3 separate regions of the Homo sapiens genome follow, and all the other regions are linked to region 1. Evidence: fine-mapped expression QTL. A gene starts in region 1. Each other region holds a variant in brackets. All regions are shown on one strand. Distances are between the middles of the regions.

Region 1 (10,184 bases):
CAAATGTACTTAACACTACTGAACTATGTATTTAAAAACAGTTAGGGCTGAGCATGGTGACTCATACCTGTGATCGCAGCACTTTAGGAAGCTGAGGCGGGTGGATCATTTGAGTTTGAGACCAGCCTGGCCAACATGGCGAACCCCCCGTCTCTACTAAAAATGCAAAAATTAGCTGGGCGTGGTGGTTCACCCCTGTAATCCCAGCTACTTGGGAGGCTGAGGCAGGAGAATTGCTTAAGCCCAGGAGGTGGAGGTTGCAGTGAGCTGAGATCACGCCACTGCACTCCAGCCTGGGCCACAGAGTAAGACTCTGTCTCAATAAATAAATAAATAAATAAATAAATAAACAAACAAACAAACAAATAAATAAGGGTTAGGATGGCAAATTTTATGCAATGTGTGTTTTACCACAATTAATTTTTTTAAAAAGTTTAAACAAGAAGTAGCAAACTATAATGAAGAAATATGTAAAAAAAAAAAAAAAAAGAAGCAAAAATATGAACAGTACAGGATCGATGTGTTCCCTGGGAGAAGATAGAGACAAAAAAGAAGGGCGTGGCCTCAGCTCCACTCTGTGCTCAGGGTGAGACCCAGGCTTCCCTCTCCCCTGACCTCCTCTCTCTGGCCACTGCATCCTCTGTGCTCTGGCCACTGGGCCTTTCTCTGCCCCTCCGGCATGTCCAGTGTGTTTCCATACTGAGGCCTCTGAGCCTTCTGTTCCCTGTGCCTGATGCTGTTTCCTCAGATTGTCACACAACCAATATTTCTGGAGCGTGTACTGTGCGCCAGGCACCCTGCTAGGCATTTTGAAGCACTCAAGTGAGCTGCCTTCCTGGAGCTGCTGTTCTAGCAGACAGTAAGCAAAACCAAGCAGGGTGAGGGGGACTAAGAGTGGCAAGGGGTGTGTAGCAATTTTATTTATTTATTTATTTGAGATCAGGTCTCGCTTTATCACCCAGGCTGGAGTGCAGTGGTGCAATCCTGGCTCACTGCAGCTTCGGCCTGCCTGGTTCAAGTGATCCTCCCACCTCGGCCTCCCGAGTAGCTGGGACTACAGGTGCCTGCTACTGCACCCAGCTAATTTTTGTATTTTCGGTAGAGACAGGTTTTCACCATGTTGACCAGGCTGGTCTCAAACTCCTGACCTTAAGTGATCCTCCCGCTTTGGCCTCCCAAAGTGCTGGGATTGTAGGCGTGAGCCACCATGCCTGGCCTGTGGGTAGGAATCATTAGGCTCAGCAGCATGAACAAAGTGACATTTGAGAAAAGATGGGAATGAGGCAAAGAAGTTAGTTGTGCAAACATCTGGTGGAACCACTCCAGGCAGATGGAACAGCCAACCCCAAGCCATAGGGCAGGACCTGCTGGTGTAACGGGCCCAGAGTTCAAGTCAACAATCAGACTTAATGACATAATTAAAGGTGCTCAACTTCATGAGTCATCAGGAAAATGCAAATTAAAACCACAATATGGCACCTCTACAATGCACCAGAGCAGGGAAAATGGAATAAACATCACTGACACTGACAAGGACAAGGAATAAGTGTAGTTTCATCCCCTGCTGGATATAAACTAGTACAACCACCATAGGAAACTCTTTGGCAGTGTCTACCAAAGCTGAACACAGGGCCATCCTATGCCCTGGCGATTCCATGCCCAGGTATATGCCCAAGAGAATGGCATTCATATGTTCCCCAGAAGACACACACAAGAATGTTCACAGCAGCACCATTTATCAGAGTCAAAAATGGAGTCTGGACATGGTGGCTCACACCTGTAATCCCAGCACTTTGGCTGGTGGAGGCGGGAGGATTGCTCGAGGTCAGAAGTTTGAGACCAGCCTGGGCAAGATAGCGAGACCTCATCTCTACAAAGGATTTTAAAAAATTAGCTGGGTGTGGTGGCATGTGCTTGTAGCCCCAGCTACTCAGGAGGTTGAGGTGGGAGGATCACTTGAGCCTGGGAGGTCGAGGCTGCAGTGAGCTATGATTGTGCCACTGTACTCCGACCTGGGTGATAAAGTGACATCCTACCTCTAGAAAAAACAAACTGAAAAAGCTTGGTCCCTCCATTTCAAATACTGAGATTTCATAGATGAAACTACTTCAGAAGTCTATTGAACCCTCCTCTATCAAGGCAATCACATTTTCATTCAGCTTCTGGGGGGGAAATGCCTACTACAAATGCCATCCGTGATTGAATGGAAGCAAATCATTTTGGGGACAATTCTGATTTTAGTGGCAAGGAGGTATCTGAGCTAAGAGCTGCCGGGAGGACTCTCACCCATGAGAAAACCAGCCCTCCAGGTCATTCCTATACTTCACTGTCAAATCTCCCTTTGCCTGTTCCGGCAGCTTTATTCATAATAGACAAAGATTGGAAACATCCCAAACCCCCTTCAGCAGGAGACCGATATACACATTGTGTGTGGTATGTGCCTATCACGCAATAGGACTCAGTGCTTCGAACAGGGCGGGAGGTGGGAGGACAAGCGAGGATGAGCGTGGAGTCCTCACATGGCAGAAAGGCAGAGGATCAAGCCAGCCCACTCCTGCAAGCCCTTTCTACGGCATCCCAAATACATTCATGACTCAAATACCCCCACAAAGGCCCCACCTCCCAACACTGTTGCAATAAAGATTACATTTCCAATGCTTGAATTTAGGGGGACACTAACTACCACATTTCTTGCTAACATACACATCTCTTTAGGGAAGGTCTTTGGACATCACTTTTTTTTTTAAGACAGGATCTTGTTCTGTTACCCAGTCTGGGGTGCAGTGGTGCGATCACAGCTCACTGCAGCCTCAAACTCCTGGGCTCAGTTGATCCTCCCATCTCAGCCTCCCAAGCACCTGGGACTACAGGTGTGCATCACCACGCCCAGCTATTGTTTGTATTTTTTTTTTTTTGTAGAGACAGGGTTTTGTCATGTTGCCCAGGCTGGTTGGACATCATATTTTGAGCACATTTCTGGCTGTTTTTAAGATTACATTCCTAGGAATGTTGGTGAATTGATGGGGGACAAAAACATTTGTTTCCCCTTGAGAGGCAATGGTACAGGGGAGGGGTTAAGAGCATAGACCCTAGGATCACATTGCCTAGGGTTGAATACTAGCTCTGCCACTTACTGGCTACAAGACCCTGGACAAGTCACTTCCTCTCTGTCTCTGTAAATGAGCATAATAGCAGCACCTGCCTCAGGGGGTTGTTGAATAGGTTCAATGAGCTAATATATAAGAAACACATGGTATATGCTATAAAGTGTTGTCTTCTTTTCCTTCTCCTCCTCCGCTCCCTGGGATTATTACCATAATGATACAATTATCATTTGTTCTTTCTGTAAAATGGAGTTTGATGTTGGAGCTGCTTCCTAGGCAGTCAGGCAGGGCAGTCACTGAGAATGAGGACGGCGTTTCTGACTCAGCTGTGGGCGGGCAGCTGCAGTGACACAGCTGAGTCTTGGCAAACACTTTTCATGTACGAAGCCTGACCCTGGAGTCTTGAGGCTGAACTTTTCACCAACAAACAGGAATGCATTCATGAATGTTACCTCTGGGTGCTGTCCTCTGGAAGCCATCTGCATAGCCTAACTCTGCCACCCTGGCTTGGACAATTATGGTGATTTCTCTGATGCCCCTGATACTACCACCTCAATCTGAATTTAGCAGCTCCCTTCACATATGGTTAGATTGCCTTTAAAGAGATTTTTTTTTTTTTTAGAGATGGGGTCTCACTATGTTGCCCAGGCTGGTCTTGAACTTGTGGGTGGGCTCAAGCAATCCTCCCACCTCAGCCTCCCAAAGTGCTGGGACCACAGGTGTGAGTCACTGCACCCGGCCTAGATGTCCTTTTTCAAACGTAAGCAATCATGCTCAGGTTTAGGATTATTCGTGCCTGGGTCCCCCTCCCATACTGAATTGCTATGGACAGCCAGCTAGTCTTCATCCTGCACCCCCCAGCCCCTGTGCAGCGTTAATGAGCCAGAAACGCTGATTCTGCTGCTGAGTTCCGTGGAACCCCCTGGGGCATTTTCCTGACTACCCCCAGTGTGGCCAATCCGTGTCCACTGAGGATGAATGTGACTCCAGGAAAATACATGAAGTAACTCTGTGCCAAGCTTGGTGAATGAATTGAGCCATGCCAATTCTGTGCTATAAATAAATTTACAAGACTGGTTTTCTTGCGTGGCTCATAAGCCAGGTCTAGCTGCCACTCCCCCAGAAGTCTTCCAAAAAGTATTTTGAGCAGGACCTTTAGACTGGGGTGTTGGAGTCCCAAGGCCAAGGCCGACCGCGCTGCTCTGGGCCCAGCGGGCGTTCCCACACGGGGCTGTAATGCCACGATTGGCCGCAGGAGGGGGGCCGTATTCCAGACCCCATTGCAGAAGCCTCCGCAACTGCTCCAAGAACTTTATTTTATACGGACTGGCGGCGAGAGCAGCTGCAGTTCGCATCTCAGGCAGTACCTAGAGGAGCTGCCGGTGCCTCCTCAGAACATCTCCTGATCGCTACCCAGGACCAGGCACCAAGGACAGGGAGTCCCAGGCGCACACCCCCCATTCTGGGTCCCCCAGGCCCAGACCCCCACTCTGCCACAGGTTGCATCTTGACCTGGTCCTCCTGCAGAAGTGGCCCCTGTGGTCCTGCTCTGAGACTCGTCCCTGGGCGCCCCTGCAGCCCCTTTCTATGACTCCATCTGGATTTGGCTGGCTGTGGGGACGCGGTCCGAGGGGCGGCCTGGCTCTCAGCGTGGTGGCAGCCAGCTCTCTGGCCACCATGGCAAATGCTGAGATCTGAGGGGACAAGGCTCTACAGCCTCAGCCAGGGGCACTCAGGTGAGTCTTGGTACTAATTTTGTCCTATCTCCTGGGCATGCTGTCTCAAAGACAGCTGGAGGAGACTGGAGTGAACTGGATGGAGAGGAGTACAGAGTTTGGGAAACTTCAGACCTAGAGCCTGGAGGTGCCTTCTCCAGGTGGGAAGGTCCCCGCCTGCTGGGCCCGCAGATATCTGCCGGGCCCTCATCCAACTGCCTGGGCTGGAGAGAATGTGAGCCTGCATTTGGGGTGCCAGAGGGAAGCTATTGCCTTGGTGGCTACTCCACCTGACTCATGTCACAGCTCAAGAGCCTACTCAGGGTGCAGATGGCTCAGGTGACAGCTCCTCTCCATGGCTTCGTGTGTGTGCATGTGTGTGTGTGCATGTGTGTGTGTGCATGTGTGTGTGTGTGCATGTGTGTGTGTGTGCATGTCTGTGCGTGTGCATGTGCCAGTGGTGGGATATATGTGGGGAGAGGTTATTTCTAAAATATCTGTCTCTGTCCAGCTTTGGGTTATGATTTAGCTTAACTAAGTACAGTTAGAGGAGGAAAACATTTAAAACCTCCTTAGTGATTCTCTCTTTGGAGAAGGGCCACACTCATGTGATTTTTTTCCTTGGTTTTGATGAGTTTAAAGTGAGGTAATCCAAAGAAAAGCCATAAACCCTGCAGAGTTAGATGCGGGTACCCAGAGAAACTGACTTGGTAGCAGCAAATGAGGCTCGTGCTACCCACTCAGAGGAGGAATTAATGGAGTCCTTCTGATCTCCAGAGAAGGATTGAAGAGCCAGGGTCCTGATATCAGCCCTAGAGTGCATTCGCGATTGCCTTTTACAAAGGGAACTTCAAACAGCTTTGTTTCTGAGACTGGCTAGGTAGGAGGGAGGCCTTGGGAACCTGGACACCCCCTTACCTGGCTGCCAGGCAGAGTCAGAAGATGCTGGGGGATGCTTTTTCTCATCAGACTGCCACCAGCTCCCCTGAGTGACCTTGTTCATAAAGTCATGCCACATGCATTATCTCACGGGAGGCTCACAGTGATCCTGGGTGACCAGCAGCTACCCACCTTCCCATCTTAGAGGTCATGTACCTGAGGCTGAATGAGGTCAGGTAATTGAGCCAAGTTCCCCCAAGAAACCAATACGCAGAGGAGCTAGGATGGGAGCCCTTGGCTTCTGTGTTCCCTGCATTCCTGCAGAGAGCCAGGCCTGCAGGGCGCAGATGGCCCCAGGGCACAGGGCTGCAGGGCACAGATGGCTGAGGGCTTTTCCAGCTCTAAAATGCAGAATCTAGAAGCAGATCCCTGGCTCTGAACCTGCCCTTCTAAGTGCCTTGGGTGAAATTGTCTGGAAGTAAATCATGATTGCCAAGAGGTTAGTGGAGAGGGTGACACCTCCCTGTTAGAGCAAGACCTCCCTCTTTGAGTTGCAAGTTGAGGTCCAGTCTCCTTGGGCTTCATCCACAGGTCACTGTGGCTTCCACATCTCGCCCATGTGCTTCAAGCTCTCAGAGCCCTGCCTCAGTCCCAGGATCCCCACCTGCTGGAGTACACTGGCTGGCAGTCTGAGGTGGGATTCTCTTCTCTGCCTGATCTGGGGCCCAGAAAGTGGTCACCAAAGGGGCTGACATGCAATTCCCAAACAAAGCAACCCTGCAGCTGAGCCAGTGCCCTGTGTAGGAAAACTGTGCCCGGGGCCTCTTCCCGCTCTGATATCCATTCCTTCCTTTGCCTCTTTGGTCTGGGATGGCTTATGTTTAAAATGGGAGGGACGGAATGCAAATGCCATCAGCCTACCCCCAACACAGTGCTCCTGGGAGGAGCACTTGCCATCAGTTTCATCTTCTAGAGCACAGACTTGGTCCAAAGACAGTAAGATCCATGATCTGAGGGTCCCAATGCCTGCTTCCTCCCCCAAGAAAGAAAAACAGCCCCCAAGAAACCTTGGGCAGACAGAACATGCGTAGGTTTCAATTCCAAGTAACAAACATGAGTAGAGTTGTCTGAGCTTTTCCAAGCCCTGTGCACTCACATCTGGCCCCGCTCGGCCCCAGTCCCTCTCCCCAGCAGATCCCCTGGGCTCCTGCTGGACCAGCTGAGGGGTGGGGAGGAGGAAGGAGACAGCTGCCCTTCACACACATTCTGGCTAACAAGCCGTGCATTCCAGCCCCGTCCCAGGAGCTGACCAGAAGAGGAGGAAGGTGGAAATGGCAGTGGGGCCTCACACCTCCACTCCCCAGGGGCAGCGCCCTGTCTGGCTCTGTGTGGCCTCTGGGAAGCAGAGGCTATTGCCTTTGGCAGAGGGAGGGTTATTGCAGGCAAAAGAGACATTGGCCTCCTGCTTCACAGCCCCGCAAGGAGTGAAGCCAGAGGGAGGGCTGCCGCACACAGTGCTCATGAAATGAGGGAGGGTCCCTTGCAACTTAGCAGTGCTGGAGCTGCCCGCGGCCCCACCTAGAGGCCCTGCCTGGGTGGAGGCATTGGGTGGAGGGCCGGAATTGGGAGCCCAGTGAACTGGACACCACTGCAGCACAGGGAAGCCAGAGTGGGTGGTGTCTGGGGCAGGGAGGAGAGATCCTGGCAGAGCCGAGGACCACCCCCTGTTCCATCCCTCCCATAGGCTGGAGGAGAGGCCCGCAGATACTGGGAGCCCCAAGGCTGTGTGTGTGCACATGCGTGTGTGTGCCCGTTATGGGGGATGTACAGAAGGGCTAACAGCAGAGGCGTCCAGCCCTCCTGGGTCATTAGAAGGACATGTATACAGTGACTGGTCAGTTCTGGTCTCTTCTCAGCCCAAATGTCAGAGGTCTGTGGAGGCCAAGCTCAAGTCATGAAAATAGGGGCTTCAGCTGGGTGCAGTGGCTCACACCTGTAATCTCAGCACTTTGGGAGGCTGAGGCCAGTGGAGCGCTTGACTCCAGGAGTTCCAGACCAGCCTGGCCAACATGGTGAAACCCCATCTCTGCAAAAAATTAGCTGGACATGGTGGCTTGTGCCTGTAATCCCAGCTACTCAGGAGGATGAGTTGGGAGGATCACTTGAGCCCGGGAGGCGGAGGTTGCAGTGAGCCAAGACTGCACCACTGCCATCCAGCCTGGGCAACAGAGTGAGACCCTGTCTCAAAAAAAAAAAAAAAAAAAAAAAAGAAAGAAAGAAACAGAAAAAAAAAAAGAAGAAAGAAAATACGGAATTCTTGTTTTGCTCTGCTGCAGAGCAACCCCGCCAGCCGCCTTCCCTGATTATGTCTATTTATGAAAGTTGCCACGCCTCCTTGCCCACCCTCCCTCTGAAGAGAAACTGATTGACTGATCTCTCAATCAACAGGCATTGTCCCCCCACTGCCACCTGCCAGCCCTGCATCCTCTCCTCCCAGCCTCCTCTGGGTTGAAGGGTTGAGTTTGCTCCATACTGGGCCTGGGACCCATCCTCATGGGGCTTTTATCTTCTAAAGGATGCTGTTCTTTGGTTAAATGTCCAGATAGTTAAAGAGAATCAGAAGCAAAGGTCAAGATAAACTCATGGCTGGAACCTTGATGAAAGTAGAGAATAATTTGTAAAGTCACTGAGCATTTATGTGACAAAAACAATATCAAGAAATTGATGTATATACTTTGTAATTTGGCTTAAAAAACAGATTCTTCTCATTACATAAGGAATGTAAATGCATCATAGAAAACCCAGAAAATCTGAAAGCAAAAAGGAATATTAAATCCCCACAATCCCTTCCAGCCAGAGTCCTGTAATACATTTCTCACCCGGAGCCATCATAGCGTCTTACATCCACACGCACCTTACGCGTGCATGTCTTACAAAATGGGATCGTGTTGTACACATTGTTGCGTCAACAGGCTGTTTCCTTTCAAAGAGCATAGGATTCTCCTAAGTCAATGTATATGCTCCTGGACCATCATGGCGTAGACCCAGAGACCCAATGAGTCAGCCTCTGGGGGCCATGCAGACAGAAGCCCTCCCTGGCCTAAAGCTGTCCAGATGCTTAGTGCCTGGGTGTCCCTTCAGAGGCTCCCTGCTCCTCGGGCCCCACCACAGTAGATGAATCCCTGCTGTGGTCCTACTGAGCCAAGCTCCTTCCAACATGCCAGCCCCGTTGGATTTGGGAGCAGTCCTGGTCTGCTCAGCTTTGTTTGCAAGTGGACTCTGTACCCCCTCTGAATGCCCCTTCATATCTAGTTTCCTTCCTTCATTTCCAACACAGAACAGAAGCTCAAGTCTCTCTGGCATGCCCCGGGCTTCTGAGGGCTCAGAGCCTGCTCTCAGGTTACCTTTTGAGTCAGCAGGGTTCCCTCCTCCTGGCCCCACCCAGTGTAACCCACAGTGACCCCAGCTCAGGATTCCAGCCCCACTGAGAGTTGTTGAAAGGAATGGACACATCCCACCATCAGAAAGGCCCAAGGGCCTTGGTCTTCTGAAGCCCTGAGGAAGCTGGGAGTGGGGGCATCACGGCCCCAAGGACCTGGAGGATGGCACCTGGGTCCTGGTGATGAGCAGAGGGTCCCGGTGTTCAGGCTTAGGGTCAGGGGTGGGCACCTTGTTCTATCCATTTGCTTCTGTTTCCACCTACAGTTGATTCTCTGTCTCTCTCCCGGCCTTCGTCCTCCCTCTCCTCCCCTCTTGCCTTCTCTGCAGCTGTTGCAGGGTGTGATGGAGAACAAAGCTATGTACCTACACACCGTCAGCGACTGTGACACCAGCTCCATCTGTGAGGATTCCTTTGATGGCAGGAGCCTGTCCAAGCTGAACCTGTGTGAGGATGGTGAGTGCAGCTGGCTCAGACTTGGGGCACAAGATCTGGCCTGGGGGTGGGGAAGGAGCCCTACCACCACCCAACCTTGGCATTGCCTTTAAGTGCTTGTGACCTCCTCATGTAATAGTGCATATATTGAACTTTATGCTTTAAAAGGTCTTCTCCATGGGTTTTCTCATTCATTCACTTCCACAAACCTGTCAGCAAGATGAGTACTCATTTTACAGATGGACAGATTTCACAGTCCATCAGTCTTATGGTGGTCCAGCATGGAGCCTCCTGACTCCGAGGGCCATGCTTCTGCTCCTGAGAGAGTGAGACTCGGGTCAGGCAAGGGCCTCTGAGCCAGTCAGTGCAGACCCTCTCAGGTGAGGAGAGGGGCCTCCCACCCACTTCCTGAAGCACTCGTGAGGGGCAAAGAGCTCTCCAAGGTGCTCATCCTGCCCCTGGGTGCAAGGCCCTGGTCTTGCCACAGAAAGGGGTCCCCAGGCCAGTGACCCAGAAGGCCTTGCATCTCAGGGGCTGCTTATTTGCTAAAACCCTGGAGATCCAAGTGATGCAGCTTCCTTTGGAGGAGCCCAGAGCGCTTTTCCACCAGCT
Region 2 (10,184 bases), 28 kb after region 1:
TTTCCCAGAATATCACATAGTTAGAATCATACGGTATGTAGCTTTTTTAGATTGGCTTATTTTACCAAGTTAATTACTCATTTAACATTCCTCCATGTCTTGTCATGGCTTGATAGTGCATTTTTAAAAAAATTATTTTTAACAAAAAAGTAGGCATACGTTTTGCCCTGGCTTTGCTGATAGGATCATTTTGGAGTGTTTGTAATCTTCTGCTAAGTTTAAATAATTTGAAAGGTTTACCCAGCTAACATGCTTCTGCCACTTGGAAAAAAAAAGTCCATAAATGTGTTTTGGGCAGCCTTTGTGACTTGTCGTTGTCTTAAATTGTCTTCTTTCCCTTGCAATCATTCTCTAAGGGCCTTGCCAGATCATTCATGTTCTGCTTGTCTAACCATTTGTGGGAAACCTCTATTTGAAACCCTCATTATGTTCTATTTAAAATATACTTGGTTTAATGCACAAAGTAACCAAGTCTTGCTCAAAGAACTAAACTCTCTCAAAGGAAGGTCTGTGTTCTGCGTGTTGGTTGACTAAGGCACCTGTCACAAGTAGGTGCTTGCTATTAAATAGAAGCCTCAGGTAGAGGGCAAGGGAAATATTCTTTTTAATGGGGAAAAAATAGACATCATTGCACATTGACCCACTCCTACAGTGAACTAGCAACACATATGAAGATGACAAAGGCAAACTTGAAGTTAACTGTGTTCACGGCTGTGTGATTTTCCTCCTCCTATTCTGTCATGAGGCTAAGGAGACAGCAGGGCTCAGAGCAGGAGAGCTGAAACTACCACCATGAGAATGAAACCAGTAATTGTATAATATTATTCAATGCTATACCTCCTACTCTGACTCTTGAGAGGAACAGAGTTTTCTCTGGTAAGTTGCAACCAGACAGCTAGTGGCTCTCACCAGAAGGAAAAAAATAAAAGAAATGCTACCAGGAGCCTACATATTTAGGAGCAAAACCCTTTGTAGAGCCTAGTGTATGGTAAAGGATGGAAAATCCCAGAAAAGGTTTAGGGTGAGTTAGAAAGATGTGCTCTATTTTGTCTTAGCGGAAAATCAGCTCAACTCTTCAAAACTTGCTAATGTAAGGATGAGTGAGAATAGTCATTGACAACTTGCTCGACACTGCACCCAATGTCTTATGGAAATATTATGTAATAGCTCTGTTTAGCTGGTTTAACAGCAGTATTTGTAATAAAATGAAGTCAATGAGTGAGAAAATGTTCCTTATATAACAATACCTCTGGGGGACCAGGGCAGTGTGGATCGTAAGGTACCAATAGTCACCACCATTTTCCTTGTGGTCATAAAACCTCCTGAGGCCAAGGAGGTAGTAATGATACCTGGGAGGCGATATGTAACCTTTGAGGTATCCTTGCAAATGGGAACCTATGAAGGAATTGCAAACATGGTACTATCCTTCAGGATGTTTTCTAAATATCAATTATTTTAGCCTCTCTTGACAACCTTTTTCTGCCCACTCCAGTTAGTGACACTCCTCTCCTCTCCTTTCCTTTTTCCTTTCCTTTCCTTTGACAGTCTTACTGTGACACCCAGGCTGGAGTGCAGTGGCGTGATCTCAGCTCACTGCAACCTCTGCTTCCTGGGTTCAAGTGATTGTCCTGCCTCAGCCTCCCAAGTAGCTGGGATTACAAGCACGCGACACCACGCCCAGCTAATTTTTGTATTTTTAGTAGAGACAGGGTTTCACCATATTGGCCAGGCTGGTGTCGAATTCCTGACCTCAAGTGATCCACCCACCTTGGCCTCCCACAGTGCTGGGATTACAGGTGTGAGCCACCGTGCCTGGCCTTAGTGACACTCTTGAAGTGGGGACAGTCCTTCTGGAGAGGGGTCTTACCCACAGGGGGTAAGGAACAAGCATTAAAGGGATAAGCATTTTTTAAAAAAATGCCGTCCCCCCGCCGCCCCCACCCAGTGATTCCTACATGCCCTGCTAACATCAGGGAGAGGATCCCTTCTTTCCACTTCCAGTCAACAGAGCAGCTGGAGATCAGTAAGCCTCTTCATGGGCCATCTGAGAAGGCCACCTTGAAGGACCAGTTCAGCTAAAAGATCAACCTGGGTCCTGGGGCCGGATTTGCTGCTAACTGACATTTGACATTCTTTATCTGTACAACAAAGGGGTTGAATTACATGGCCCAAAAGGCCACTACAGCAAGGATATTTCCCTGTTCCATTTTGAGCAGAAGCTGAGGAGTGTCACAGGATGAGGTTACCATGTTTTCTAGCAAATCTAAATGCAAGGTTGCAAGCTGGTCAGAACTGGCTTACAGATGTGTTTTGTTTACACTCCCCAGTGTTTTGTGTTTGATGAATTAGTTGCCAACCCTTAAAAATAGATGTAGAAAATTCTGGATCTGGCCACACCCACCACTCATCCCTGCATAGTAGCCTCTGCCAGAGCAGGCACGTGCCGTTGGCCTCCCCACAGTCCCACTGGGCCCATTTCTCTCATTCCCATACCTTCCCAGCCACTGTAGAAGTTTGAGTTTGCAACTCCTGTTTTAATTTCTCTTTATGTTCCCTGGATCCCATGGGACAATGACACTTTTTAAAGCCACATATCCAAGACTATTTCAAGGTCTTTCTGCTGCTTGGACTAGCTCAAGAAGAGTTGGTTTTTGTGAGCATGTGAGCTGTGGACATGTGATCTGGCTTGATCATGAACACAGAGAGTGGGAGGAGAGCTAGAGGCTGAATGTGATGGTCCTGGAAAGCTCCCCATCAAGTGGCTGCATTCTAGACATGCAAAAGGGATGTGAGAAGTTCAACATGAACATCTGCATGCATCAGGGAGAGATGAGACCAAAAAAGAAAAGAGCTTATGGGGTTTTTAAGTGTCTTCTTTCCTTCCTCCTCTTACCCTTATTGTCCAGGTCCATGTCACAAACGGCGGGCAAGCATCTGCTGTACCCAGCTGGGGTCCCTGTCGGCCCTGAAGCATGCTGTCCTGGGGCTCTACCTGCTGGTCTTCCTGATTCTTGTGGGCATCTTCATCTTAGCAGGTAAGAGCAGGCCATTTTTGTCCTGGTCTTTTGGGATGAGGAAGGAAGACCTGGAGCTTCCACTCTTCATTCCCACTGTCATGAGCCCAAACACTGCCCTTGTCACCATGGAAACCATAGAGGAAGAAGGAAGAAGCTCTTCAGTAGTATTGCTTGTTTTGCGTGGGAGTAGCTGGCAGGGGCTATGTGAGCTTGTGGAATCAAAGAGACCAGCAGTAGAGACCTAGCTGCTTGGAGTGGCTTCTGACTTTTCCTGCATCATTGTGGGGCATTGTGCATTACACTGGGCCTCCCTGGGCCTCTGGGGTATGGTTTGCTCTGAGAAGGCTGGGCGTTGTCTAAGCTTCTGGTCCTGGGGTGCCATGAAAATAGTTGTGAGGCACTTTGCTTCCTGGTAAACCTGCTGCCCTTTGCAGTTACTGTAGGTAGAATGGGTTTGCCCCAATTCAGCCAGGCTCTCCTTACCAATTTCTATCTTTTGAGATGGGCAGGCGATGGGCTAGGGCTAGCATGTTCTCCAGCCATGGAGAAGGAGAGCTCATGGACTCAAGAAGGGATGGAACAGGAGCCTGTTGGCCCCAAGCTGTGAGCAGCCCAGCTCATCATCTATAGGTAGTCCCTATGAAGACAGATGGTGAAGCAGATGGCTGTAGTGGTCTTCTCCTGACTCCCTTTGAAAGGAAGGGCTGCTCAGTTCCCACCTTTCTCAGTGGAGGTAGGTAGGACTGGACGCAAGTAAGGCTGAGAGATCAGTTTATTTCCACCCAACATGTCTCACATGAGTACCTGCCTTGCAGCAGGCTCCATGCTAAGATTGGGGGCACAGCTAAATAGGACCCAGGGGCTTCTCTCAAGGAGCTCCCAGCCTAGGAACTGAGGGGGTCATGCAGATAGAGCCCTGCCTCAAGGCAGAATGCAGCGGGCACTGTGATGGGGTGTAGCCCAATGCGATGGTGACAGAGCAGGCACATAGAGGGAGGTGCGGCTGCTGCATGAAGCAGGTGGAGTTGGTGGGAGCGAGGCTGCTGGCCAGGCCGAGCTGACTTGGAGCACTGAGGGAGGGGCCCTCGGGTGAAGCCCAGGGCAGGAATCTGGAGGTCCAGCCCTTACAGATAGATGACCTTTTGCTGGAAATTTTGAGGCAAATGGCCAGGACCTCCCCGGTCTTGATTCACTTTCCGTCAAGCGGGACTAGTCAGTTGGGTGATGTAATGGGGTGTTCAATGCTGCCTGAGCCTTCAGGTTTCCACACTCAGGGCAAAGACATTGGGGTGGAGTCTGTCCCATCAATGAGCAACCTGAGGGGCAGCCAACAGCAACAACGAGAGAACCTCATTATTCATCCCTGGGACCAGAGGACAGGGGCCAGCAGGGTCCCTCGCAGGCCGAGTGGGCCAGAGGAGGATTTGAACATGTTCTCGGGCTGCTTGGTGAGAGCTTGGGATCTGAGTTTTGTGGGTTTGGCTGCGAGGACCATAACAAATTTCTGGAATGTTCAGAAAGCATTCCAGCCCAACAGGAAACCAGAACAGGGACTTTTAGGTGACAGATACAGAAAAGCTCTGCAGAACAGGAACTTTTAGGTGACAGATGGGGGTCTGGAGGAGAGGGACCAGGCTGGTGGGGGGTTTGGGGCAGGCCTCTGGAGGTCCTGGAAGGGCATCGTCTCTTGGGGAAGAGAAGACTTGCAGTGGAGTGACGGTTCTCTTCTGGTGTCTGGATGGCTGCCATGTGGAAAGGGTAGACATACTCTATGTGACCCCAGAAGGCAGAGCTAGGACCAACAGGTGGATGTTATTAGGAGACAGATTTCCATTCAAAATAAAGGACAGTTTGCTAACAAGTAGTGCCGTCCAGTATGATGAAAAAAAGGCTTTCTCCTGGCTTGGAGATTGAATGAGGTTTATAATAATGTCCTGGAAGCTTCAGAAAGGAGGGTGGAACATGGTTTCCCAATCTAATAGAAATGTTGCCATACCTCCTTAATTGTTCCAGCATTTTTCTGATCATTATAATTATCTTAGAACCTGAAGTTTCTGGGTACCACATTGCCTGTGTTGAACAAAAATTTGGGGTGGATTGGGACGGAGCTGGTGCA[A/G]CAATGTCGTACCTGATCTCTTGGCCCTGGGTGTGTGGCCGCTCTTACCTCCCCAGATTCTTGTCTGGAGAATCATGCTGGCCTCTGGGGGAGGTTTGGTGAGGGCAGCATAGGAAAGGGACTTGGCAAGATGGTGGACAAGTCTGAGGTTCTTTAAGGAGGCTCTGTCTGATCTTAGAGAGGTTTCTTAAGATTGCCTGATTGAAGACCTCAGCGATGCTCCTTCTCAGAGATACCAAGATCAGGGGTCAGGGGAGATCCACAGTCCAGTGTGAAGAAGAGCTTGCCTGGCCTTCTGTTGGGTGTCCTGCCATGGGAGAGGGCTTCCCCTTCTTGGGTAGAACTCACTGCCTGTGCCCAGAGAGGTCACCTTGCACAGGAGATCCATTTAAACCATTCTTAAAACCTCCTTGTCAATGCAAATCTCATAGCTCCTACAACTGGATGACAAAATTGTCCACTGCAACCCAGTGCCATATCTGAATATGGGATTAGCAACATCTCGGTGTGCAAATGCTTACTCTTACTGTTTCCCAGTATGAAAAATCTGTAATCAAACTACACCAAAATATGAGTCTTATAAGCCCCACATAGGACTTTTCTCAATTCATCTTCTTGCCCAAATACTGAAAGTAAAAGGCAAACATGTACCTCACGTTTATGCATTATCCAAGTTTACCTGTTTGAAGGTTAATCCGGCCACCACCCAAATTATTCTATCAGTTGGATTCTGCCCATCATCCAACCTGACCAGTGTCCTCCTGGGAGCTTTACTCCAATAATCCCATGCTGGCACTGGGTTCTCTTCCCTTAGCTCATAGCCTGTCATCATCTCCCAAGGAGACGGCAAGAGCCTCCTCCTACCTCCAATACCTCTAAGCTTTTCTATCTCTTCAACACATTTTGATTATTACCTTGGCTGACCGTTCCCTATTATGTTTTCATTCTGTTCCCGATTCATTTTTGAACAGTAGAGACCATCAGGTTTAAGTTCATGAACTAAAGAATTGAGATTGCCTGGTCGTGTGGCCAGGGGGTCCTCAATCCAGCACTTCAGGCAAGATGTCCTTTGCAATAGAATTAAGGGGTCAGAGGGAGCTCAGTCTTACCTATGGCTCTTCTAGGCAGTCACTGTGGTGACTGGGTGTGGTCATCAGGAACCATCTCTTCTTCCCCTTTCCTGAGACAGCTCTGTAGATAAGTCTGAATTCTCACTGTGGAAATGAAACAGCAGAAAGGGGAAGTGAAAAGATCTGGGATTCGAATGTGGGGTGAGGCTGCAGCATCGCAGCAATGTAGCAAGACCACTGGTCTACAGGGAGAGTCCCTAGGGAAATATGGGCTCCTCCTGCACCTTAAATTAGTTCTTTTCTAACAGCACCATTCGGTCGTTGTCATCATCATCCTCAACAAGTGCTGAATTTGTTCATGAGTGTTCGGTGAGTGCAGGGCAAAGGGACAAGCCCTAGGAATAAAACGTCATGAGATGTAGGCCCTGCACAGGAGGGTTTAAAATCATGAATACATACACCCATTGTCGGGCAATGTGACGTAGTTTCTGCTGTTGCCAAATTATACAAAGGAGAGCCCAATCTCTGAGGGCTGGAATGGTTGGGGAAAGGCTTGGCCTGCGGAGAGTTGTCCACCTGGCTTTGAACTGAGTATCCCTTTTTTGGATCACCTTGTTTCAAGCAGGTCTGTCCCTGGACTTTGCAGGAAAGAACAATATGCTCAGAGCCCATGTCCATCTACACTGTAGCTTCCTGATTCTATCACGCATCTTGGGAATAGGAGCATAATGCCATCAACCTTTATTGGGACACTGTCAGAAACAACCCTGTGAAATTTCACCCCTTGTGCTTATTGTAAGAATGATGTTGAGGATGTTATTTGTTGCATTACACAATGCTGTACTCAGGGGACCCATGCACCAATTATTTTCTGTCTCAGTCATAGAAGGAGTTATGTGTTCCTCGAGGAATTTGTTTTCACCTTATGGAGACTGTGAATCTGAAAGTCTTTAAAATTACTTTCAAGGAGGTAATTAACACAAACTTAAGAGTCAGCTGTCATCCCTTGTATGAGGATATGTGAATTTGAAGGTCATTAAAACAAAAACCTGGGGACAGAATTGTGGTCCACCTGCAGCAAGTATAGAGACTTCAGGAAAGCATTTTTGTGTTAGTCTCCTTCCTGGCTTCATTCGGGGTCTCTCTACTTGATCTTCTTTACCTGCATCTCATCTACTTTAATCTTAGTGTAGTTAATGTATCCTTGTGAATTGCCTTAATTCTTTACGGAACAAGGAAGGGTATTATGTACAGTTTTATCTTTACAAAAATTTCTGCCTATTCTACTTGATTCTTCAAATGCATGATGTTTTTAATATGTGAATGAATGACAGAGACAAGGGAATCTAGAAAATATTTGTAGAAAAAAAAGATGATTATTTCAGTTTTAACCAAGTACCTAATTGAGATGAATATGGAATTGCTACCCAGGGACATTTAGCTAGTAGAAGTGGCAGGTGTGTGATTATATTAACACATCTACCATGTTATATACTGCATTGACATTACAGCATTTAAGAAGAATATTGAGACAGGCAGGACCGTGTAGACTTCACGCTGGTTACAAGTAGGGACTTTGGAGCCAGCCTGTCTGAGTTGGAACCCTGGCTTCTCTATCACCAGCTATGTGACATTGGCCGAGGCACTTGGCCAAGAACTCCCTTCTCTGAAAACGGGGGAAATCAGCGTACTCCCTATATTAGTCTGTTTTGCATTGCTAAAAAGGAATGCCTAACATGGGATAACTTATAAAGAAAACAGGTTTATTTGGCTCATGGTTTCGTAGGCTGTACAAGCATGGCACTAGCATCTCCTTGGTCTCTGGTAAGGCCTCAGGAAGCTTCCAGTCATGGCAGAAGACAATGGGGAGTAGGCACGTCATGTGGCAAGAAACAGAAAGGAGGAGGTCCACCGTCTTTAAACAACTGGTTCTCATGTGAACTAATGGAGCAAGAACTCACTCATTACCATGAGGGGGATGCCAAGACATTCATGAGGGTATCCACCCCCATGGTCCAAAGACCTCCCACTAGGCCTCACCTCCAACACTGGGGATCTGACTTCAACATGAGATTTGGAGTAGTAGCTATTGTTATTGCTGGCATTGGTATTACCACTATTATTAGCATCGTCACTCTTACTTTTTCTTCGTTTTCTTTGCAGTCAATTAACCTTGATAGCATAACCTAGGGTTTAGCCCCAGGTTATCTGTGAAGGCTCTGTAACCTTGGGAACATCACTTTGCTGTCTGAATGGGAGTTCACCCATTTGTAAAGTGAGCAAATTGGGCAAGATTGGTGGTCTCAAACATTTTTTACCATGACCTACACAACCAGTACACACACATAAGCATAGCTGAGATAATACTTAAATTTGTAATGCCTTTCTACTCTATTCTATTTATGTTTTTTTAACATGATCACAACTCATTTATTTCATAATTCATGAACAGGATATAAGCTGTAGTCTGAAAAACAATGGGCTACATGATACTTCTATTGTTCTCTGTGTCTTTCGAGCATTCTGGGAGTAGCTATATTCTCTTCAGGATATGGACTTTGAGGCCAGACTTCTGGGTTCAAATCGAGGCTGTACTATGGAATGGCTCTATCATTTTGAGGCAAATAATTTAACCTCCAAGGGACTTGGTTTTTTCATCTGTACAATGGGTTGATCGTGGTGCCTACCCCATGGGGCTGTTGTGAGGACTGAATTAAATAATACATGAAAAATTAAAACTCTTTCACTGCCTGGCACGTAAGTACTCAGTAGGCTGGGACAGTGGCTCATGCCTGTAATTGCAGCTCTTGGGAGGCCGAGGCAGGAGGATTGCTTGAGCCTAAAAGTTTGAGATGAGTTTGGGCAACATAGTGAGACCTCATCTCTACGAATAATTAAAAAATGAGCCAGGTATAGTGATATGTACCTGTAGTCCCAGCTACTCAGGAGGCTGATGTAGGAGGATCACTCGAGCCCAGGAGTTCAAGGTCGTAGTGAGCCATGATTGCATCATTGCGCTCCAGCCTCAGTGACAGAGCGAGATCCTGTCTTTAAAAAAAAAAAAAAAAGTGCTCCAGAAATATTTGATATTATTATTCCCACAATCAGAGACAGTTTGCTTTCAGAATAGCAAAGGATTACAGACCTACTTGTTTAGCCTGAACACCCAGTAACTTTGTCTATAAACAGAACTAGGCTCAGTGCAGTACGTGTCCATATGCACATGTTTCCAATAAACACACAGGGAAGCCTGGAGACATTGTTGGAGAGGTCCTTGAGGTACCGTGACAGCGCAGGGCTCAGTAAGCCAAGAAACAGGAACAGAACAGCATTTCCAGGATTGTAGCTCTTTAGGGGAGGGAGCGATGGAGCCAGCAATGGCTCCACCCATGGCACGGAGATGCTTAGCTTCAGTGGGCATCTCCTACAACCTCCCTCCCGACTTCCCAGACAGACATGGTGTTGTGCTTTTCCCAAAAAACAACTGCGAGTCACAGAAACCCCTTCCTTGTCCTCCTTGACTTTCCCATACACTGTTTCTAGTTCTTCTTGCCGGAACAAATCATATCATAACAAGGCATTCTCCTCATCCTCACGATTGCTCATCAGTGAGTTGGTAACACCAAGGAAAGTGAACCCAGTTCCTCCACCTTTGTGTCTTTGGGCCCCGGTCTTCACACTCACCATGCTGTATTGCAATGATTGGTTTCTGTGCTGGCTCTCCTCCTAGTCCGGGAGAGCTCTTTCATGATAGGGCACCGCACCTTGTTCACAGCTGTCCTCCCACTGCCTACCATCATGTGCCACATATAGCAGGTAATTAATGGAAGGATCAAATTGAATGTCTCAACAGAATAGCCATCCTCCCAACAGGCTCCAGGTGTGAGTAGTCAACAGAATTAGACACCACTCCTGGGGTGGCCTAGCCAGGGGGGAGTGTGCCAGGCTGTGACCATGGATGTTGATATTAGTTTAAATTCT
Region 3 (10,184 bases), 45 kb after region 1:
GGTCCCCAACCCAATACAACCTCATCTTAGTTTGATTACACCTACCAAGAGTTTATTTCCAAATAGGTTCTGGGTGGACATGAGTTTGCAGGGGACACTATCCTGCAAAAGTGACCTGCTCTAAGCAACACCCTGTGCACTCAGGGCTAAGAGAGCATGTCACCTGGAGCTCACATGTCCCTCCTTCTGGGTCATGCTCTGAGGACCTGGGACTGGAATTCTCTGGTGTGTTCGAGTTCGCTCGAAGTCATTCCCCGTGAAAAATGTTGAAAGGAAGAAGGGATTCCGGACCTCCTCTTCTCCAGCCTTGTCTCAGGGAACCTCCCCTGCATGAGGAAGAGGAAGGATTTTCCTTCCTCCTCTGGGTACAGGAGGCACATTCCCTGGCGTGGAGCACACTTGCCTTCTGCCTTACCGTGTGGCCATGGGCAGTCGCTGATGGCACCGTGCAGGACGGGACGGGCCTCTGCACCGGAGGTCCAGCCTCGGGTCTCCTGACCCTGGCACTGCCACAAGCTGTGTGACCTTGGGCAGGGGGCCTTGCCCCTGTGAGCCTCGGGGGCCTGACCACTTGACACATCAATGGTCACCAGTCATTCGTTGGTCACCAAGAAAACCCATGTCTACTTTGGGGCTCTTTAAAGGTTCTGTTGGGGGCTCTGGGTTGAGAATTTCTGGGCTGGACCTTCAGAGCTCCATTGGCGCCGATCAGTTTTTGGACCTTGGGAGTGACCACAGCTCCGGCTCCCACACTGCCCTCCTGCTCCACTCAGCACAGCTCTTGTCCTGCTCAGGCATTGATACCGGTTTTCTGTGTCTGACTCCACACTAAACTGTGACCTTTCTGGGGGCACATATATGAATCCCTCTGTATCATTCACTAGCCTAAATTTTAGAATTACATGGACTTGCATTTCAAACCCATTCTGCTCTTTTTAAAAATTCCATGAGTTTGGGCAAATTTCTAAACCTCTTTGAGCACCAGTTTTCTTATCTGTAAAGTGGGGATCCTAAGGCCATCCTCTGAGTAACGTGGAGACCCTTAGATGAGATGATGTATTAAGCACCCACCATTCCTCTTGAGAAGGGGTGAGTCCCTGTGTATGGTACTATAACAGCAGTTATTGGTGAGGTCTGTGGAATAAATGGCTTAGTCCACACTGACCTTTTTTTTTTTTTCCCATAAAGCTGAGTGCTGAAATAGGAGTTTTGTCACAGAGCTCGTTCCGATCGGTTGAATGGGTACAGAGGTGCTGTCTGTTAATATACGCTCAAGGAAAGTGCTGGCACTGGATTCCGAGGCATTGCTAAGTGTCTCAGGTTCCTGAGACCAAGGCACCTGCCCTAGTCCCCATGTGTTAGAGGGCCCCACTCTGTCCCTCTGGCCGCTTCCCAACCCACAAGGTGAGGCATCCTGAGGGCTAAGAGAACATGGCACCTGGAGCTCACATGTCCCTCCTTCTGGGTCATGCTCTGGGGACCTGGGACTGGAATTCCCTTCCCCAAAGCCTCAGCTTTCTTCCAGGTCCTTTGGGCTGTTCTGGGAGAGGGAAACCACGGTGCTGGCCAGAGGGTGACAAAGGGAGGGTTGCTTGCCGGCATTAGGTGGGGATTAGAGTTGGCCGTGCAGGCTGGGATGCCCCCCAAGCACGGGCATGAGGCCTGTGTGGAAAGGGTCTGCTCGAGGATGGGATTGGGGGTGTGTGTGGGGTGGGGGTCTCCTTACAAGGCAGGGATCTGGACCAGGTTCCAGGTAGTCGTGCATATTCCTGGCAACCCCCAGGTCTGGCTCGCGTCAAAGTGCAGACATAGGTGGTTTAATGGCAAAGAGCGTGTGGGTGTCCCTGCCTCAGCCCCTGGGGCTGGCATGCAGTTGGCAGGAGGATGTGCTAGACCCCTTCCCCTCCTTGGTGGCTCTGCACCTGCCCTGGCTGCAAGGACTCACTCCCAGGTGGCCAGTGGGTGGCATTCCCCCAGCGTTTCCAGGCTCTCAGCCCCTTTCTCACCACAAGGAGCCACGGTGGGCTGGCCACATTACTGAGCCTCCCTAGGTCTCTGCTCAGGCCCTGGTGGACCTGCCCAAGGCCAGCCTGCTTGTTCATGCTTAGCAGCACCATCAGCAAGGCCAGCTTAGTCCAGCTCCAGAACTTTCTGCAACAGCCCTTCTTTCTGTGGATGGGCAGTGGCTCCCCTCAGGTCCCACCCCACTGCAACCTGCAGGGCCTCTTCAGGAGCCAGACCCATGTCCCTGGCCCCTTCTGCACCCGGGCAGGCTGTAGGGGAGGACTCAGACCTGAGACACTGCCAGGCAGGGGCTTTTCCCATCCAGCTCCGGGTACCGTGGGCGTGAGTTTCCACGGGGAAAAGCCCTCTTGATGGGATGCGGTTGGGGTGGAAGGAGGACAGGAGGTGAGTCAGGCACTGCTGCTGCTCTCCGATCTGCCTGCCCTGCTTCCAGGCTGAGTTATGCGGCAACAGTGGCCTGATTCCTGAGCTACTCAATCCATAGTGTCCCAAAGACCCCCATGCTCCCACATGGTAGCTGCCAACCTCACCCAACTCCACCCTTACGGTTACAGTAATAATCATATTTCCCATCCAATAGGTTACTTGAGCCTCACCCACTGCTCTGAGGGAGACACTATTATCCCCATTCACAGATGAGAAGACTGAGGTCCAACGAGGTTGATAGTTCTCATAGGAGAAAATAAATAGTTGCTGATTAAATTTAAAGGGCACTGGTGGTTAAGGTCAAAGCTGGGCTGACTCTGGTTTCCTGGTCAAGAGCTCCGTCTCACTAATCCCTGCTGTTCCCCTGTGATTGCCACCTGGCTTCTACTGAGGAAATACAGATTAGCTGGAAAGCCAAGCTCTGAGCCACGTGGGCTCTGCTCATGTGTGATCAAGACAGGCCTGGGCCTCAGGTCCCCTGAAGCTCACTGTTCTGTCCACCACACCACCAGCCTCTGAGCAAGAAGTAGATAGGGAAACTGAGGCACCCCGAAGTGAGGGACAAGGAGGGTGGCTTCCCACAAAGAATACTAGCACCAAGCCAATTGTGGGCTCCACCCGCTTGTGCTTCGTTCATTCAGCCTGGCCATGTGGGTTTTTATAATATCTGCTTTTGCAATATAAACTATGCACATCGATATACACAAACGGCCATAACACCACATTGCAAATTACAAAGCAAAACGCATGAACTCTCAAGGATGGATTTTTAAATTTCCTTGATAAGGCTGGGGCTTATGGAAAAGTGCCCATTCCCGTCTGTAGTCCATTGCTTTCAATTTAACTAGGCGTTTGGGGCTGGAATCGTTTTTTCCTCCCCTTTCAGTCTTGGAGCGAGTCCCACAGCTAGGCTTCCTGCGCTCAGCTGTTTGTTTTTCTTCCTTGGAGAGGGACTGGGGAATGTTACCCACCAAGCCCCGTGGGACTGGCCAGTTTGAAGAGCTCTCCAGGCCCCTAGCTGCTCAAATCCCAAACACATGGAACCGGGCCACACCCTTCGGCCCAGTGGACAGAAAGGCTGGCCTGGCGGTCCTGACCTGCCGGTGGAACGGCCCAGCCCCAGGCCCTGCCGCCTTTGTATTTGATGGAAGAGAAGATAGGGGAAGGGGAAGGAAGGCTCCAGCTCGTGGCTCCCAGCCAGGTCCTGAGACTTCAGTTGTGAAAGCTGAGCTGGGGCCTCCCTGCCTCCCTCCCAGAGGGCCCATATATCTTGTGGCCTTGGGTGTGGCCAAGGCTGAGTCTGAGTAAT[T/C]GCTTGCCTGGAGCAGCCAGACCCTCCCCTAAGTCACCGCCCTCACCCTGGGGAGGAGGCCTGCAACCCAGCCCGAGGCCAAATCTGTCCTCCACCCCCGACCCCACCCAGCTCCCCTCCTCAGTTACCTTTTAGAATTTTCTTTATTCTGGTGAAATACACAGAACATAATATTTATCATTTTAACCATTTTTAAGTGTAAGGGTCAGTGACATTAAGCATGTTTACATTGCCGTGCAACCATCGCCACCACCCACTAGCAGAACTCTTCATATCTCCAAGCTGAAACTGCATCCACTAGACCTGAACTCCTCATTCCCCCAGCCCCTGGCAACCCCCATTCTACTTTCTGTCTCTATGGATTTGTCTTCTCTTGGGGACCTCATATCAGTGGAATCAGACAGTGTTTGTCTATCATGTTTTTATTTTATCTTTTCACTCTGTCACCTAGACTGGAGTACAGTGGCGTGATCTCAGCTCACTGCAACCTCTGCCTCCCGGGTTCAAGCAATTCTCCTGCCTCAGTCTCCCAAGTAGCTGGGATCACAGGCATGTGCCACCATGCCTGACTTTTTTTTTTTTTTTTTTTTAGTAGAGACACGGTTTCGCCATGTTCAGGCTGGTCTCGGACTTGGGCCTCCCAAAGTGCTGGGATTACAGGCGTGAGCCTTTATGACTGGTTTATTTCACTTAGCGTAATGTTCTCAAAGTTCATCCAGGTTGAAGCAGGGGTCAGAATTTCCTTCCTTTGTAAGGCTAAATACTATTTCATTGCTTGGCTAGACCACATTCTGCTTATCCATCCATCTGTCAGTGGACATTTGGGTTGCTCCCATCTTTCGGCTGCTGTGAATAATACTGCTATGAACATGGGTGTTCAGGTATCTGTTCAAGCCCTTGCTTTCAATTCTTTTGGGCTTGTACCCAGAAGCAGAATCTCTTGCCCTTTGGATTTTTAAGCCAATTTGCCCTTGGAAGTCCAACAGAGGCTGGGTGCAGTCGCTCATGCCTGTAATCCCAGCACTTTGGGAGCCCAAGGCAGGTGGATCACCTGAGGTCAGGAGTTCGAGACCAGCCTGGCCAACACGGCGAAACCCTGTCTCTACTAAAAATACAAAAGGTAGCCGGACGTGGTAGTGCATACCTATAGTCCCAGCTCCTCGGGAGACTGAAGTAGGAGAATCACTTGAACTTGGGAGGCAGAGGTTGCAGTGATCCAAAGCCACACTACTGCACTCCAGCCTGGGTGACAGAGCGAGACTCCCTCTCAAAAAAAAAAAAAAAGCCCAACAGGATATTCTGACCACCTGGGATCTCTGTTCGCTAGGAGAGACAGAAGAAACTGAAGGAGAACAGTGAAAAAAAACAAAAGCTAAGGGGATCATGAATTCAGTCATTCTGCAGGATCTCAGTTCAACGAGTTTGCTAAAACAGAAATCAGGGAGGGGTGGGTTGTTATTTGAAATGCAGATGCCCAAGGCCCACCCCTTCCTAAATCAGAAAGGGGGGCATTCCACTCACTGGGATGAAGAGGGCAAAGGAGGCCTCGTCAGATTCTCTCTGGCCCTGGGCACACTTGGTGGTGCCTACAATGACCCATAATCCACTGTGCCTGGGGCTCCTGGTCCTACCCTTAGATAGAGCCAAATTAGCCCTGGCTGGCTGGGTTGTCTCTTACAGTCTGTATTAGTTTGCTGAGGCTGCCATAACAAAATACCGCAGCCTGCATGGCTTAAACAATAGATGTAGTTACTTTCTCTCAGGAAGGCTGCAAGTCCAAGATCAAGGTGCTAACAGGGCTGGTTTCCTTTGAGTCCTCTCTCTATCCGTGGTTGATTGAATTTGAGAATGTGAAACCAGCAAATACAGGAGGTCCAATGAAGGGACCTGAGCATCTGAGGATTTTCTGTGGGGGATCCTGGAGCCAATCCCTTCAGAGAAGAAGGCTGCACTCATAATTCCACTCCTCTAAAGTCAGTTGTTTTCACGAATCCTGGTTTTCTTTTAATCCTTTGTGTGTATGTGCTTGCTTCCTGTGATAGCGTATGCATGTCCCACATTGTTACATGGCAGACTTCATGGTTGTCATTTTTAGAGCTTCATTAAAGTTCATCTGGTTAATGTACCATGATTTAATTGTTCCTAATTGCTCATCCACGACTTCTCTAGGTTTTCACTGCTACAAATAAGAGAGTGATAAATTTCTCACTGCTGTAGCATTTCCCTTCTTTTGGGTTACTTCTTAAATTCCCAGGAGAGAGACTATTTTGCAAAGGATGTGAACATTTTTATGGCTATTGATACTTTTTGCCAAATTGCCTTCCAAAAATATTTGCACAGTCATCAGCAATGTTTAAACACACTAGCGTTCACCACGGTCTTGCCAGCATGATGTAGCACTGTTCCATTACTTTTAGAGATTTCCTTTTTTAAAATTTGCATTTCTTTGATAGCTAATAATCTCATCAAGCTTTCCATACATTTGATTATTCATTGTGTCATCTCTTAAGGAGACTGGCTGTTTAAGCCTTTTGCCTGGTTACTATGTGAGGTCAAATCAGGCATTTATAAAGTGTCTAATACATACTCACTACCATGGGGTGCTATAGGGGGACCAAGGAAGTATAAGACCTGGTTCTTATCTTCCAGAAGGCTATGATTGACACTCACATCTTATTTACTTGTTGTTGATTTCTTTGTACCCAACCTGCTGCTTTGCACAACCTGTATGCTTCATAAATCTTTATGTAGTTAAATCCCGGATGACATGTTTGTTGTCTTTGTGGTTCACAGAGATCAGCACTCAATTTAAAGGAATGCGGAATCAGAACCCAAAATAAGGCTGAAACCCAGAGAGATAGCTTAGACCTGGTCAATTAATATGGACACACATGAAGTAGTGCCCCACAAATGGGGAAGCCACGGCTTGACATCAGTTTTTAAAGCAAGGTTGAGGGTTTGAGTTTGGCAGGATGCAGTCTATGAGTCAGTGTGTGACATGCCTGCCACCAAAAGCTATCGTGATCAAAGTTACGTTCATAGAGAATAAGGGAGGCACCAGTATTATTTGGCTCCATGCAGGTTAGACAACTCCTCAGTGTTTCCTTTTTTTTTTTTCAATTTATTATTATTTTTTTACAGTCTCATTCCCATCACCCAGGCTGGAGTGCAGTGGGCACAATCACAGCTCACTGCAGCCTCTTCTTCCTGAACTCAGATGATCCTCCTACCTCAGCCTCCTGAGTAGCTGGCACTACAGGCCTATACCACCACACCTGGCTAATTTTTTGTATTTTTAGTAGAGATGGTTTTGCCATGTTGCCCAGGCTGGTCTTGAGCTCCTGGGTTCAAGTCATCCACCTGCCTCAGTTTCCCAGAGTACTGGGATTACAAGCATGAGTCACAGCGCCTGACCTCAATTATTTTTTTTTGAGACAGGCTCTCGCTCTGTCGCCCAGACGAGTGCAGTGGCGTGATCTCGGCTCACTGCAACCTCTGCCTCCCAGGTTCAAATGATTCTCCCACCTCAGCCTCCCAAGTATCTGGGATTGCAGGCAACTGCCACCATGCCCAGCTACTTTTTTTTTTTTTTTCTATTTTTACAAAATGGAGTTTCACCATGTTGGCCAGGCTGGTCTCAAACTCCTGACCTCAGGTGATCCATCCACCTTGGCCTCCCAAAGTGCTAGGATTACAGGCATGAGCCACCATGCCTGGTCTTAATTTTTTATTTTTTAAAAAATGTTAAACCTACAGAGAAGTTGGAAGCTATAAAGAGTGCTATATACCCTTCATTTTAATATTGTTAACATTTTATGCCATTTGCGTGTACCTGCTCTCTCTTCTCGCCCCACGTTTGTTATTACCATTTTTAATTTTTGTGGAACCATTTGACAGTGAGTTGCAAACTTCACCCCTAAATATGTTAGTGTGTATTTACAAGAACAAGGACATTGTCTTATATCACCACTATACAATTACTGAATTCAAGAAATCTAATGCTGATTATAAATACAGTATATCCATATTTAATTTTCTTCCGTTGCTCCAAGAATGTCCTTTATAACCATTTTTAAAACTCCTGATGCAGGATCCAATCCAGAATATACATGTGGTTTTCATGGCTCCATAGTCTTTTCTAGATGGGTTCCTTGCCTTTCACTGTATTTCATGACATGGACATTTTAAAGAATGCAGGCCAGTTGCTTGCTATCCTGTCCTTTAACTTGGGTTTGTTTAATTGTTTTCCCATGATTGACGTAGGTTAAACCTTCTTGGCAGTAACACTTTCTAAGTCATTTGAGGAGGTGGATTGTGTCAATTTGTTCCTGTACTGGTAATGGTAAATTTGGTTAAGGTAAATTTGGTCAGAATAATCTACTGTAAAGCTATCTTTTATTCCCTCTGATTAAGAAGTGATCTGTGGGGAGACACTCTGAGGCTGTGTAAATACACTGATTGCCAGCAATCCTTCACTCCATGATTTTAGCATCCACTTACAATTCTTGCCCGAGTCAGTTATTACAAAGGTGGTCATCAAATGTGGCTTTTCTAACCCTCTTCATTGCTGTTTTCCTCTCTGACCGCTGCAATGTAAGGTGGCTGCAGACAGTGGTGTGCTGGTCAGCTCTGATTACGTGCGTCTTTTCCTAACTCCGTAGTCAATGATGTCATGTTGGTAGCTTGAAGTCGGTCATAGTGGGATATTTACACCTCAAACATTGGCAAGCACCACAGCTTAGGCTTCTCCCCAACCCCTTGGAGAACCAGTTGTTAAACATTTATCAGCATACCGCTGGATGCATTTAAGCTAAAACACATTCAGGAAAGAATGACTTTGGCAATAAAGGGACTTTATAATTATTTTTAGTCAGAGTCTCACTCCCGTCACCCAGGCTGGAGTGCAGTGCTCACTGCAGCCTCCATTTCCCAGGCTCAGGTGATCCTCCCACCTCAGCCTCCGGAATAGCTAGGACTACAGGCTCACACCACCATGCCTGGTTTGTAAAAACACAAGCTTTTTGTATTTTTAGTAGAGACAGGGTTTTGCCATGTTGGCAAAGGAAACCTTAAGGAAAGGGGATCCATCTTCAAATATTTAGAGGGCTATCTTGTGGGGTACCCTCATTAGTTAGGATGCAACCTCCTAACACACCCCACCCTTCCAACCTCTTGGTGCTTCTATGTTGGATGGCTCCTTCAAGGCATCACAGGACTGCACCTCTCCCACCACTGGCTTCCTATCAAGGAGCCAGCAGGGAACAGAATGGAACACAGAGGGTGCAGGTCACCTTGAGCAGGAAGAGGGATGCTTCTTACTCTCATCTGAGAAGAAGCAGTGTGTTTGCAGAACTATGGTGAGGTGCAGAGGAGGTGGCATTCATGCTAAATGATGCAGAGGAGATGGTGTTCTTGCTAAATGGCTTTCATGTTCTTGGTAAAGTGGATATAGTTACTTCCAAGAATGAGAGAGGCAAAGCAGGCTTCAGCATTAAGAAGCATGAAGATGCTTTGAGATAGCAGCAAAGGGCATTTTTTTTTCCAGCCCTCCAACCCACTCAAGGCAGCCCAACTCCAGGATGTTCAAGCAGCACAAGAAAGGGCCAAGTCAGCGTAACACTTCTGCAGTACCGTGCAGCCCGAGAGTTAAAGTGGGGAAGGAAGTGGACGCAGGTGCTCAGAGTTCACCACTGATGTATACAAAAGTTGATAAACTCTCCCAGAGGCCGGGGCATCGGAAGGCAGCTCTGGATCCAGGCATGGCAGTGATCCGGGCATGGCCAGAGGAGGGCAGGTGGAGAAGGTCAAGGGGCTGGGATCAACCTGCCAGTTGAAGCAATGGGCAGCTTTCCTAACAGTGAGAGAGCTGGCAGGCTTGGTGGTGGTGGTTGGAAAGTGAGAGAACAGCGTTCTGGATCTCTTTGGAAAGTATCAAGCAACTACCTAGTTCTAGGGAGAGCAGTAGTGGGGGCCACCATCGTGAAGAGGGTGAAAAGCTGTGCGTTCCAGCAGCCAGAAAGTCACAATCATAGGGAGGAGGTGGGATAAAGGCACGTGGAACATACTCTGACTTGGGGCTGCAAGACTCAGTCTCGAGGCCTGGCTGTCACTGGCTAATGGTGGAAAAGCTATTTCTTGCTGGCCTCAGCTCTTCATCTCATGTGAATGGGGGCTGGGCGCAGTGGCTCACACCTGTAATCCTGGCACTATGGGAGGCCGAGGTGGGTAGATCACCTGGGGTCAGGAGTTCAAGACCAGCCTGGGCAACATGGCAAAACCCTGTCTCTTCTAAAAATACAAAAAAATTAGCAGAGTGTGAAGGTGCACGCCTGTAATCCCAGCTACTCAGGAGGCTGAGGCAGGAGAATCACTTGAATCCGGGAGGCAGAGGTTGCAGTGAGCCGAGATCACATCACTGCCCTCC

Which allele goes with the higher level. Alleles are on the strand shown, and positions count from the first base shown. SD is a standard deviation of normalised expression in the study named.
For the expression in subcutaneous fat of the gene that starts at base 4,424 in region 1, G is the low allele of the variant in region 2 and A is the other (small effect, 0.25 SD a copy in GTEx).
With allele C in place of T in region 3, the expression in spleen of the gene that starts at base 4,424 in region 1 is higher (moderate effect, 0.66 SD a copy in GTEx).

What was found. PIP is the estimated chance that this variant, and not a neighbour inherited with it, causes the effect. A credible set is the group of variants that fine-mapping cannot tell apart.
Region 2: its variant is the best candidate, but not a certain one, in a credible set for the expression of SCARA5 in subcutaneous fat (GTEx, PIP 0.84).
Region 3: its variant is the best candidate, but not a certain one, in a credible set for the expression of SCARA5 in spleen (GTEx, PIP 0.55).

The regions. Positions count from the first base shown.
Region 1 is chr8:27,986,913-27,997,096 of GRCh38, reverse strand. It overlaps SCARA5 (scavenger receptor class A member 5), which reads left to right and starts at 4,424. Exons shown (of 9, transcript NM_173833.6): 1 at 4,424-4,840; 2 at 9,467-9,593. The coding sequence starts at 9,482.
Region 2 is chr8:27,959,265-27,969,448 of GRCh38, reverse strand. SCARA5 (scavenger receptor class A member 5) reads left to right here. Exons shown (of 9, transcript NM_173833.6): 3 at 2,907-3,035. Among named protein-coding and RNA genes, the nearest start is that of SCARA5, 28 kb to the left of the region's middle. The variant A/G (reference allele first, on the strand shown) is at 5,134.
Region 3 is chr8:27,941,875-27,952,058 of GRCh38, reverse strand. The region is part of intron 3 of SCARA5 (scavenger receptor class A member 5); the gene reads left to right. Among named protein-coding and RNA genes, the nearest start is that of SCARA5, 46 kb to the left of the region's middle. RefSeq lists enhancers at 1,690-2,189, 2,190-2,691. The variant T/C (reference allele first, on the strand shown) is at 3,761.